Homo sapiens: one gene and its partners. The protein of the gene in region 1 purifies or fractionates together with the protein of each later gene. This does not show direct contact. Each region holds a gene or a part of one and is shown on either strand. Other genes may lie near its edges.

Region 1 (3,735 bases):
AGGAAAAATGGGGAGTGACTGCTAATGGGGCTTTGGGCTGATGAAAATGTTCTAAAATGGACTGTGGTGAGGGTTATGCAACTCTATGAATATATTAAAAATCACTAGATTGTGCAATTTGAATTGATGAATTATATTGTATATGAATAGTATTTCAGTAAAGCAGTTTTTTAAAGCAATGAACTACTACTGATACACACAACACAGATGAACTTAAATCCATCATTCTGCTGAAAACAGACCAAAAAGCACACAATTCAATTTAAATAAAACCCTAGAAAATGCCAACTAACCTATAGTGACAAGAAGATCAGTGGTTGCTTGGGGATGGGGAGGGAGGGAAGGGCAGGAAGGAGGAATTACAAAGGAACAGAAAAAAAAACTTTTGGAGGTGACAGGTATATTCACTATCTTGACTGTGGTAATGGCTTCAAGGATGTATTAACAGAAGTCAAAACTTATATTGTATACTTTAAATATGTAGCTTATTAAATGTCAATTATACCTCAATAAAGTCATATACGTATACGCAAAGCTGTATTTCAACAATGCTAGGGCTTTAAAAAAGAGGTTAGAATAAATTATGAGAAAGTGTTATCTCCTCATGATATGATGTAATCAAAAAATTACCAAAGAACCACTTTTCCATTGACGTCCTTATTATAAAGAAAAGGTGATCGAACAGTGTCTTCCTGAAATATTTCAGCTGTAGTATCAGAGGAATTTAATTCATCTTGGCATGAGTCACCCCAGCTTGGTAGTGTATCCACATCCACAAACTGGGAAGGTGCACCTAAGGGATCCATGGAATGGGAACTTTGATTTGTCTTTTCCCAAAATCCTCAGCAATTCAATATTCACTGGAGACTTTAGCTTTAAGAGAAAAGAAAGAATCACTTTAATAGAGAAGCACAGATATTACTTGAATTCTATTAAAGCAGTAAACAAAATTCCACTGTGAAATATCCCAATAGTATATTGTGTGATTATAGCCACTTAAAAAGTCCATTAAAAACAATGGACAACAAAGAATTGCTACAGAATTTCTAAAACAGGATTAAAGAGTGATTATTTAAGCATAAATTCTTTTCAAAGAATTACAGCCATTAAAATAATCACAGGCCCACCAATTCTACTTTCCAGAAACAGGACTATTCATTCAACATTCACTGAGTGCCTACTATTGAAAAAAAAAAAAAAAGTAATAGATGCTGCAAGAGATACAAAGATAAACCATATGTATAATTTAAAGTCTGATGATAATGTGGAGGATGTACTGAGTAAGACAAAATGAAAAGCTGGGAGGTTACTGCAATCAAGTAGTAAGAGATGATAAAGGTTTCAACTAGGAAAGGAGATACAGAAGGAGGCAAACATTTAAGAGGCAAAATACAAAGGAAGGATGAACAGGAGTTGACAATTTACAGGATATGGTGTGTGAGACAGTGATATGGTAGGTGGCTGGTGGTACTGAAATACAAACATTAGAAGAGGAGGGTGTTGGAAGACACACAGCGTCAAGTACTAGAGAGAAGCAATGGGAAATTCTTTGTTGCTAGAGAAAAGGAGAATCAATTTGCCTATGAGTCAAACATCTATTTCAGTAAAATGGTATATTCATTCATCGAATAAATCTTTGTATTGTGTCACTGCACTCCAGCCTGGGCAACAAGAGCAAAACTCCGTCTAAAAAAAAAATATTTGCAAGCATCTATTATGTGTTAAATACTATTCTAGGCACTGGGCACACACTGGTGAATAAGAGCAAGTCCCTGCCCTTCAGGAGCATATGTTTCCATGGAGAAGACAGAAGATGACAAATGATAAAGAAACAAGCGGGTATCTAACAGAATGACTAGAGAAGTAAGCATTATGAGAGAACAGGTAACATCTCAGTAGAAAGATACAATGAGAGAGCAACCACATGAAGCTCTGGGAGATGTTTCAGGCAAAGGAAATGGCAAGTGCAAAGGCCAAATAGGCAGGAAGGATCTTGGTATATTACAGGAGGAGCAAGGAGGCCAGTTTAGGAAAAGCAGAATAAGCTAGGTAATGAGTGGTAGGTGATGAGGTTGGTAAGAGAGGGAAAAACCAGAGGATACTGTTTGTAAACTATGGTAAGAAGTTTAGATCTTATTCTAAATATGAGGGATGCTATTAGAGGATCTTGATCATGGTAATGATTAAATATAAATAATATTTGAAAAGAATACTGTAGCTACAATGAAACTGAGATGGGGCAAGAGTAGATGCAGAGATCAATAGAAAATGACTGCAATAATTTAGGTGAGATGGTAGTGATGAGAAATGTTAGATTTGGAATGTATTTTGAAGGTGGTGTCAACAAGACTTAAGAATATAGACAGTAGGGAGAAAGAGCAGAACCAAAGATAACTTCTGGATTACTTGCTTACACAATTGAGTAAATGTTATGCTATTTACCGAGAAGGGAAAAACTGGAGTAGGTTGTAGGGTAGAGTGATAACCAATGGTTTTTTTTTCTTATGTCTTTTTGGGTGTGCTACATTTGAGATGCTCATTCTATGACCAAGTGTTTATGTCAAACATGCAAATTGGTTATATGAGGCTAGAGCTCACAGAAGATGCGGCTAAAGATATAAATTTGGAATTCTCAGCATATGGATGGTATTTAAAGCTATGGAAACTGGACAAGATAGCCTAGAGAGTAAATGCAAATAGAGAAAACAGATCCAAGGACTGAGTCCTACAACAAAACTTAGAGGCTGGAAAGAGGACAAGTCAGAAAGTGAGAGAGAGAAGGAATGCTAAGAAAGGAAGGTAAACCAGGAAAGCATGGTGGCCTAAAAGCCAAGTGAAGAAAACATTTCAAGCAATACTTGAGAAGTATCAGTTAAATGATACTGAAAGGTTGAATAACAGGACTAATATCAAGGGAACATGCCCCCGATAATTCAATATTATTTCATGTAGGTTCTTTTCTATTTCCCTAAGTGTTGGCCGGTCTGAGAAATAAAGGGAAAGAGTACAAAAGAGAGAAATTTTAAAGCTGGGTGTCCAGGGGAGACATCACATGTTGGCAGGTTCCATGATGCCCCCCAAGCCACAAAACCAGCAAGTTTTTATTAGCAATTTTCAAAAGGGGAGGGATTGTACGAATAGGGTGTGGGTCACAGAGATCACATGCTTCAAGGGCAACAAAAGATCACAAGGCAGAAGGTCAGGGTGAAACTAGAATCACTAATGAACTTCCATGTCCCGCTGTGCACGCATTGTCAGGGTTCAAGAGCAGAGAACCGGTCTGACTAGAATTCGCCAGGCTGGAATTTCCTAATCCTAGCAAGCCTGGGGGCGTTGCAGGAGACTAGGGCATGTTTCATCCCTATCTACACCTGCATAAGGCAGACACTCCCACGGTGGACATTTCAGAGGCCTCCCCTGGGAATGCATTCTTTTCCCAGGGCTGTTAATTATTAATATTCCTTACTGGGGAAAGAATTCAGTGATACTTCTCTTATCCGTTTTTGGTAATAAGAGAAATATGGCTCTGTCCTGCCCTGCCCACAGGCAGCCACACTTTAAGGTTATCTCCCTTGTTCCCTGCATCGCTGTTATCCTGTTCTTTTTTGAAGGTGCCCAGATTTCATATTGTTTAAACACACATGCTCTACAAACAATTTGTGCAGTTAACGCAATCATCACAGGGTCCTGAGGTGACATACATCCTCAGCTTATGAAGATGACAGGATTAAGAGA
Region 2 (3,500 bases), on another chromosome or scaffold:
CTAGCTAATTTTTTTGTATTTTAGTAGAGACGGGGTTTCACCATGTTGGCCAGGGTGGTTTCAAATTCCTGACCTCAAGTGATCCACCATCCTGGGCCTCCCAAAGTGCTAGGATTACAGGCATGAGCCACCACACCCAGCCTGTATTTTTTGTACAGCTGAGGTCTTGCTATGTTGTTCAGGCTGGTTTCCCACCTCAGCTTCCCAGCGTGCTGGGATTACAGGCATGAGCCACCATGCTCAGCCTAAAAATATATTTATATATATATATTTTTTGAGACAGAGTTTCACTCTTGTCACCCAGGCTGCAGTGCAATGGCACGATCTCAGCTCACTGCAACCTCCACCTCCTGGGTTCAAGCAATTCTCCTGCCTCAGCCTCCCAAGTAGCTGGGATTACAGGCACCCGCCACCACGCCCAGCTAATTTTTATATTTTAGTAGAGACAGCGTTTTACCATGTTGGCCAGGCTGGTCTCGAACTCCTGACCTCAGGTGATCCACCCACCTCAGCCTCCCAAAGTGCTGGGATTACAGGCATGAGCCCCGCGCCCAGCCAATAATTTTTAAATGAAGTATGTAACATAAGCCAAGATTTTTCTTGTCATCTTTTATAAATGAAAATTCACATCAAAGGACTGAATCTGAATGACAGAAGTTCCCTGATCAGATAGTTTTATGTTAAGAGACACACAAATGAAGTGGACACTGTCCTCATCTATAAGCTCCAGGAGTACCTGGAAGTGAAGTTGGAGACTAGCACAGTGAATGCAAAGCCCCAGAAAGAGCTCTGAGAGGCTCTTTGCAAAAAAGGCTTCAATGGAGTTTTTCCTCCCCCTAATGGCTGCTGGAGAGAACTTGGCACTAGTAGAGTGGCTGCCCTTAGAGCACAGTGACAAGTACAAGTTAATCTATGGCTGTCCTAGACAAGTCCCATGATCTGTCGTGGAATGACTACCATCCTTACCTGGGCACTGTCCATGCAGGAACTGCCAGAGTCCCACGGTGCCCAGCTGCTGGAGGGTCAGTTCCTCTGCTTGCAGGGCCACAGTCAGGTCCTCACCACGTACCTCAATCCCAAAAGACACCTCATTCACCTTCAGGACCAGAACTGAGACCTATCAAAGGAGATTCTCTTAGTTTTAAGTCCCAAGCTCTCAGCCCAGAGCCTACCCTCTGCAGAGAAGAAAGTAGAGCTGCTGACCGGGTGAAAGATGAGGTCTTCTCCACTGGGTGAAACTGAACTGTTGGCTGCTGGTGACCCCTGGCCATAATTATTCACAAGAGGGCTCCCTTGAACACCAGCATTATCTGAGACATTTGAAAGAGATCCTGGTGGAACAGATTCTGGACCAGACTCTGCATGAAAAAGAGGACAAATGAATTTAAAAGTCAAAATATTCTGTTCAAATCCAACCTCTACAAACAATGACAACTGTAAAAATAAAACAAAATACTTATGACATTCATGAGACAACTAGAAATTTGAGGACTAACTAGATATTTGATGAATTTAAGGAATTACTCTTAATTTTTTAAAGTGTAATGACATTTGATCCCATTTTTAAAAGTCTGTAAACAGAAGCAACCCAAGTGTCCTTCCATGGATGCAAGGATAAGCAATGTGGTATATAAATACAATGGAACACTATTCAGCCTTAAAAAGGAAGGAAATTCTGACACACGCTACAAAATAGAAGAATCTTGAGGATATACCAAGTGGAATAAGCCAGTGATAAAAGGACAAATACTGCATGATTCCACTTATATGAGGTACCTAAAGTAGGCAAATTTATAAAAATAAAGTAGAATCATGGTTGTCAGGGACTGAGGGGAGGGGAAATGAGGAGTTACTGTTTAATGAGTACAGAGTTTCTGTTTCGCAAGAAGAAAAACATCCTGCAGATAGACAGTAGTAATGATTGTACAACAATCAGAATGTACTTAATGTCACTGAACTATCCACTTAAAAACGGTTAGGATGGCAAATTTCATATGTATTTTACCACAATTTAAAAAAATTTAAGTCTGTATTTTCTAGCAATGCATAACTGAAAATATTTATGGACAAAAGGATATGTTTGGGATTTGCTTCAAAATATTATGAGATGAAGGAAAGTGGGCAGTAGTGTTTATGAAACAAAAATGGCCACGAGTTCTTTTTTTTTTTTCTTTTTTTTGAGATGGAATAGTCTCGCTCTGTCGCCCAGGGGAGTGCAATGGCGTGATCTCGGCTCACTACAACCTCCACCTCCTGGGTTCAAGCAATCTCCCACCTCAGCCTTCTGAGTAGCTGGGATTACAGGCGCACGCCACCATCCCTGGCTAATTTTTGTATTTTTAGTAGAGACAGAGTTTCACCATGTTGGCCAGGCTGGTCTCAAACTCCTGATCTGCCTGTCTGGGCCTCCCAAAGTGCTGGGATTACACGCGTGAGGTACTGTGCCGGCCTTCTCTTTCCTTTTAGACTGGATGCTTCCCAAGGCAGAAATCCAGTCACAAGTTTAATTGCTGTCTAAGGTGAATATATAAGAACCCCAGGAGATTTTTCAGAACTTTAATTTAAATTTGAGAATTAGGTTTCACCTTAAGTGATCCGCCCACCTTGGCCTCCCAAAAGGCTGGGATTACAGGCGTGAGCCACTGCCCCGGGCCTGCCATGAGTTCTTAATTTCAAAGCTAGGTAATGGGTGTATGAGGGTTCATTATTTGATTCTGTCTACTTTTGTACATAGACATGAAATCTTCCATAAGAAGTTAAAAATAATAACAAAACAAACATGGTACATGCCACCCAGCTTAAGAAACGGTGCATTCTCTTAAATTAAAACCACAGTGAAATATTAACTCACTCCTGTCAGAATGCCTATTCTCAAAAAGATTAAAGATAACAAGTGTTGGCAAGGATGTAGAGAAAAGGAAACCCTAGCACCCTGTTGGTGGAAATGTAAATTAATATGGGCATTATGGAAAACAGTATGAAGGGTCCTCAAAGCTAAAAATAGAGTTACCATATCCACTTCTGGGTATATATCCAAGGAATATGAAAAAAAGTATATCAAAGAACTATCTCCATTCCTGTGTTTACTACAACATTATTCACAACAGCCAAGTTATGGGATCAACTTATGTGTTCATCAACCAATGAACAGATAAAGAAAATGTGGTACAAACACACAATGGAATACTATTCAGCCTTATGAGAGGGAAATCCTGTCATTTGTGATAACGTAGATGAATCTGGAGGACAGACAATATGCTAAATGAGATAAGCCAGGCACTGAAAGACAAAAATAGCATGTGCTCACTTACACATGGAATGTAAAACAACTGTACTCATAAAAGCAGAGAGCAGGATGGTGCTTAACAGAGGCTGAAAAGGGAAATGGGAGGGGTTAGGAGGAAATGTTAGTGAACGTGTAATGTTTCAGTTAAACAGGAGAAATAAATGGTAAGTATTTGAGGTGACGGAGATGTTAATTAGTTTGGCTCAAAAATCCC
Region 3 (3,735 bases), on another chromosome or scaffold:
AGTGACTACACTATTGATTGAATCTGTTTCTTTTTGTTTTCTTCACTTAATGTATCCTGGAAATGTTTCCGTATGAATATATAAAAAATCTTTTTCTACAGGCTTTGTGTGAATGTATTCATCTAATGGCAGTCACTTATAGGACTTTTAGGATGTTTTCAGACCCAGGGGCAGCCTTTTCTCTCTCTCTCTCTTTTTTTTTTTTTTTTTTTTTTTTTTTTTTAGATGGAGTCTAGCTCTGTAACCTGGGCTAGAGTGTGGTGGTGCGATCTTGGCTCACTGCAAGCTCCGCCTCCTGGGTTCATGCCATTCTCCTGCCTCAGCCTCCCAAGTAGCTGGGACTATAGGCGCCCACCACTACGCCTCACGGTTTTTGGTTTTTTTTTTTTTTGTATTTTTGGGTTTCACGGTGTTAGCCAGGATGGTCTCGATCTCCTGACCTTGTGATCCACCCGCCTCAGCCTCCCAAAGTGGTAGGATTACAGGCATGAGCCAACGCGCCCGGCCAGGGCAGCTTTTTTATACAGGTATTTTAAACAGGTATTTTGAACCTTCATATCTGTCAACTTTGAATATTTGAAACATTGGATCAACAATACCTCTCTATTTGTCAGTGATTTCTCAATCTCTGCTCTGGCCACTTAAGATTACCCACCAGAATTCTGGGGATCAATCTCATACTTGTGTTTTAACTAAAACAGATTCCGTAGTATTTGCTTTATGGGATTTTCTATCAAAGTATTTTTTTCCTTTAGTATAAGATTTTAGTTAATTACTTCATATTAATAATACTTTCACATGCTTGCCAAAGGTTAAGTAACACAAATAAAAACAAATTATTTGAGCTTCAGTTTATTGAGTGCCGGTTATGTTCTAGAGGCCATACACATAATCTGTAATACTTTTAACAGCGACAGAAGTAGAAATTGTTTGTCTCATTTTATTTTATCTTATTTTTTTGAGACGGAGTTGCCTAGGCTGGAGTGCAGTGGCACGATCTTGGCTCACTACAACCTCCACCTCCTGGGTATTTGTCTCATTTTACAGGGGAAAAAAATGAGTCTCAGAAAAGAGAAAGAGAGGGCTCAAAGTCACATAGGAAATTTTTTTTTACTTCAAAGGCCACACTCCTTCCAATGTATTATGTTCTTTTTCAAATTTAAAGTCAGAAAGCAATTGCCCAGAAACAGGGCCAACAGCTGTGTTTTACACTGAACTTAAACAACATAAGAAGAATATTTTCCTAGAACGTGTTTTGTTTCTCCATATGAAATCATTCCTTTTCTAGATGGAGAAATAGATTCAGAATAAGTCTTCTTCCTTTTATATTGAGTCTATAAAGCAATAGGCAGTTAAAATGTCTAGCCAAAAGCTGTCTATTGTGAAGACAGTAAGGTATTATTCAAAATAAATGTCACTATATTTCTTCTAGTTATATATATATATACACACACACACACACACACATATACATGCACATACATACACACACACATACTCTATGTATATACATATTAAACTCTAAAATATATGGTCTTCATTTACTGACCTCCTTTGTCCCTAGCTCTAGCATGGCAAATTTTACCATCCCCTCAAGCAAAGCTAAATTAGTTGTTACAAAATCTGTGATCAAAATCATTTTATAAAAATACTCTTTATTATTTAATTCAAGAGCTGCTGCTTATATTCCTTCAGGAAGAGAAACAATCTTTTCTATCCCTTCCAATTTCTTCCTAGTCCACAAGTCATTATTTACACCCATGTTGTCCAAAGTCTTTTTTTTTTTTTTTTGAGATGGAATTTCACTGTCACCCAGGCTGGAGTGCAGTGGTGAAATCTTGGCTCACTGCAGCCTCTGCCTCCCGGGTTCAAGCAGTTCTTCTACCACAGCCTCCCGAGTAGCTGGGATTACAGACGTGCACCACCATGCCAAGATAATTTTTGTATTTTTATTTTACTTTATTAATTAACTTTTGAGATGGAGTTTTGCTCTTGTCGCCCAGGCTGGAGTGCAGTGGTGCAATCTCAGCCTCCTGGGTTCAAGTGCTTCTCCTGCCTCTGCCTCCCGAGTAGCTGGAACTACAGCCATGTGCCACCATGCCCGGCTAATTTTTTGTATTTTTAGTAGAGACGGGTTTTCACCAAGACCATGCCAGGCTGGTCTTGAACTGCTGACCTCAGGCGATCTGCCTGCCTCGGCCCCCTAAAGTGCTGGGATTACAGGCGTCAGCCACCACGCCCACCCATATTGTCCAAAGTTTTAAAGCACCCAGCTTTTGCCTACCCATTCTTTCCCCTTGAAACCAACATAAGTAAGCAAAGGGAATACCCTGTATCCTTTTGAGACAGAATACAGTTAGATTAGGCTGTTTCCAGTATTATTTCCTGCCATGATTCCATTCAAACACCATAAAAGGCAACCTCAGCAACAGGCTTGCATCCCCCCACTGGAACCTCTAGAGATGCAGATGTAACTGTTTCCATACAATGTGCACGCACAATTTGTGGCTTCTTTTTTTTCTTTTTTTTTTTTTTTTTGAGAGGAAGTCTCCCTTTGTTGCCAGGCTGGAGTGCAGTGGCGCAATCTCAGCTCACTGCACCCTCCACCTCCCGGATTCAAGCGATTGTCCTGCCTCGGCCTCCCGAGTATCTGGGACTACAGGCGTGTACTACCACGCCCAGCTAATTTTTGTATTTTTAGTAGAGACAGGGTTTCACCATGTTGGCCAGGATGGCCTTGATCTCTTGACCTTGTGGTCTGCCTGCCTCGGCCACCCAAAGTGCTGGGATTACAGGTGTGAGCCACCACGCCCAGCCAACTTGTGGCTTCTTTATAAATTATTTGCCCATATGTAAGACCTTTAAGTTTACAAATTACTAAATCTAATGCTATTCCCTTTACCTTATATTTTTTGAGGGAGATGATGTAAACATTTTTTTCACATGAACATGGTTTCATTTTTACAAATCTAGAAAGAAAAGTGTTTCATCTTAGTAGCTAAGTCAATGGAGAGTGAGATGATTTTTACCTACGTTAGAAGGGGAACAAGAACGTTTGAGAAAAGGAAACAATATGTGTATGTTCTGTGCAATAGGCTGAATACTAGAAAAGGAAACCTGTATGTTCTATTTAATAGGTTCGTTATACCGGTTAACCAAGAAGTTACTCAACCCATGAAGGTATTAGCCAATTCCACATGGGTGATGTATCACATTGACACAAGGTCATCCAGTAGTGCCCTTGTCTTTATGAAAAGGAAATCAAAAACTTTGATAGAAAGAGAGTGAGCCTATAAGCCTATGAGTGGGAGCTAAATGATGAGAACACATGGACACAGAGGAGGGAACAACACACACTGGGGCCTTTTGGAGGGAGGAGGGTGGGAGGAGGAAGAAGGCTAAGCAAAACAACTAATGGATACTAGGCTTAATACCTGGGTGATGAAATAATCTATACAACAGACCCCCACAACTCACGTTTACCTGTCTAACAAACCTGCACTTGTATCCCAAAAATTAAAGTAAAATAAAATATAAATAAATAATTTTTTAAAAAAGAAAAATCTTAACAAAAAGAAAGTGAGCCTATAAAAATGAATTGTATTTGTACTTAGGTTTATTGATACAATAGTTTGATTTGTCCCCCCTCAGATAACGACTTTGGAGTGAGAACTGAGATTTATAAATTTCCATATTTGGAATTATAGCATATTTAGAGCCGACTTTTGGAAATGA

What was found.
Region 2: the proteins of GDAP2 (region 1) and BLTP3A purify together in Homo sapiens (affinity purification with mass spectrometry, with the first as the bait; one large-scale study listed by BioGRID). This does not show direct contact.
Region 3: the proteins of GDAP2 (region 1) and ZDHHC2 fractionate together in Homo sapiens (co-fractionation; one large-scale study listed by BioGRID). This does not show direct contact.

Annotation. Positions count from the first base shown.
Region 1 is NC_000001.11:117,919,552-117,923,286, forward strand, and holds part of GDAP2 (ganglioside-induced differentiation-associated protein 2), read right to left. Parts: intron 874-3,735; 5' UTR 807-873; coding exon 631-806; intron 1-630.
Region 2 is NC_000006.12:34,865,083-34,868,582, reverse strand, and holds part of BLTP3A (bridge-like lipid transfer protein family member 3A), read right to left. Parts: intron 1,359-3,500; coding exon 1,204-1,358; intron 1,118-1,203; coding exon 967-1,117; intron 1-966. UniProt on the Homo sapiens protein: Tube-forming lipid transport protein which probably mediates the transfer of lipids between membranes at organelle contact sites. May be involved in the retrograde traffic of vesicle clusters in the endocytic pathway to the Golgi complex.
Region 3 is NC_000008.11:17,201,289-17,205,023, forward strand, and holds part of ZDHHC2 (palmitoyltransferase ZDHHC2), read left to right. Parts: intron 1-3,735. UniProt on the Homo sapiens protein: Palmitoyltransferase that catalyzes the addition of palmitate onto various protein substrates and is involved in a variety of cellular processes.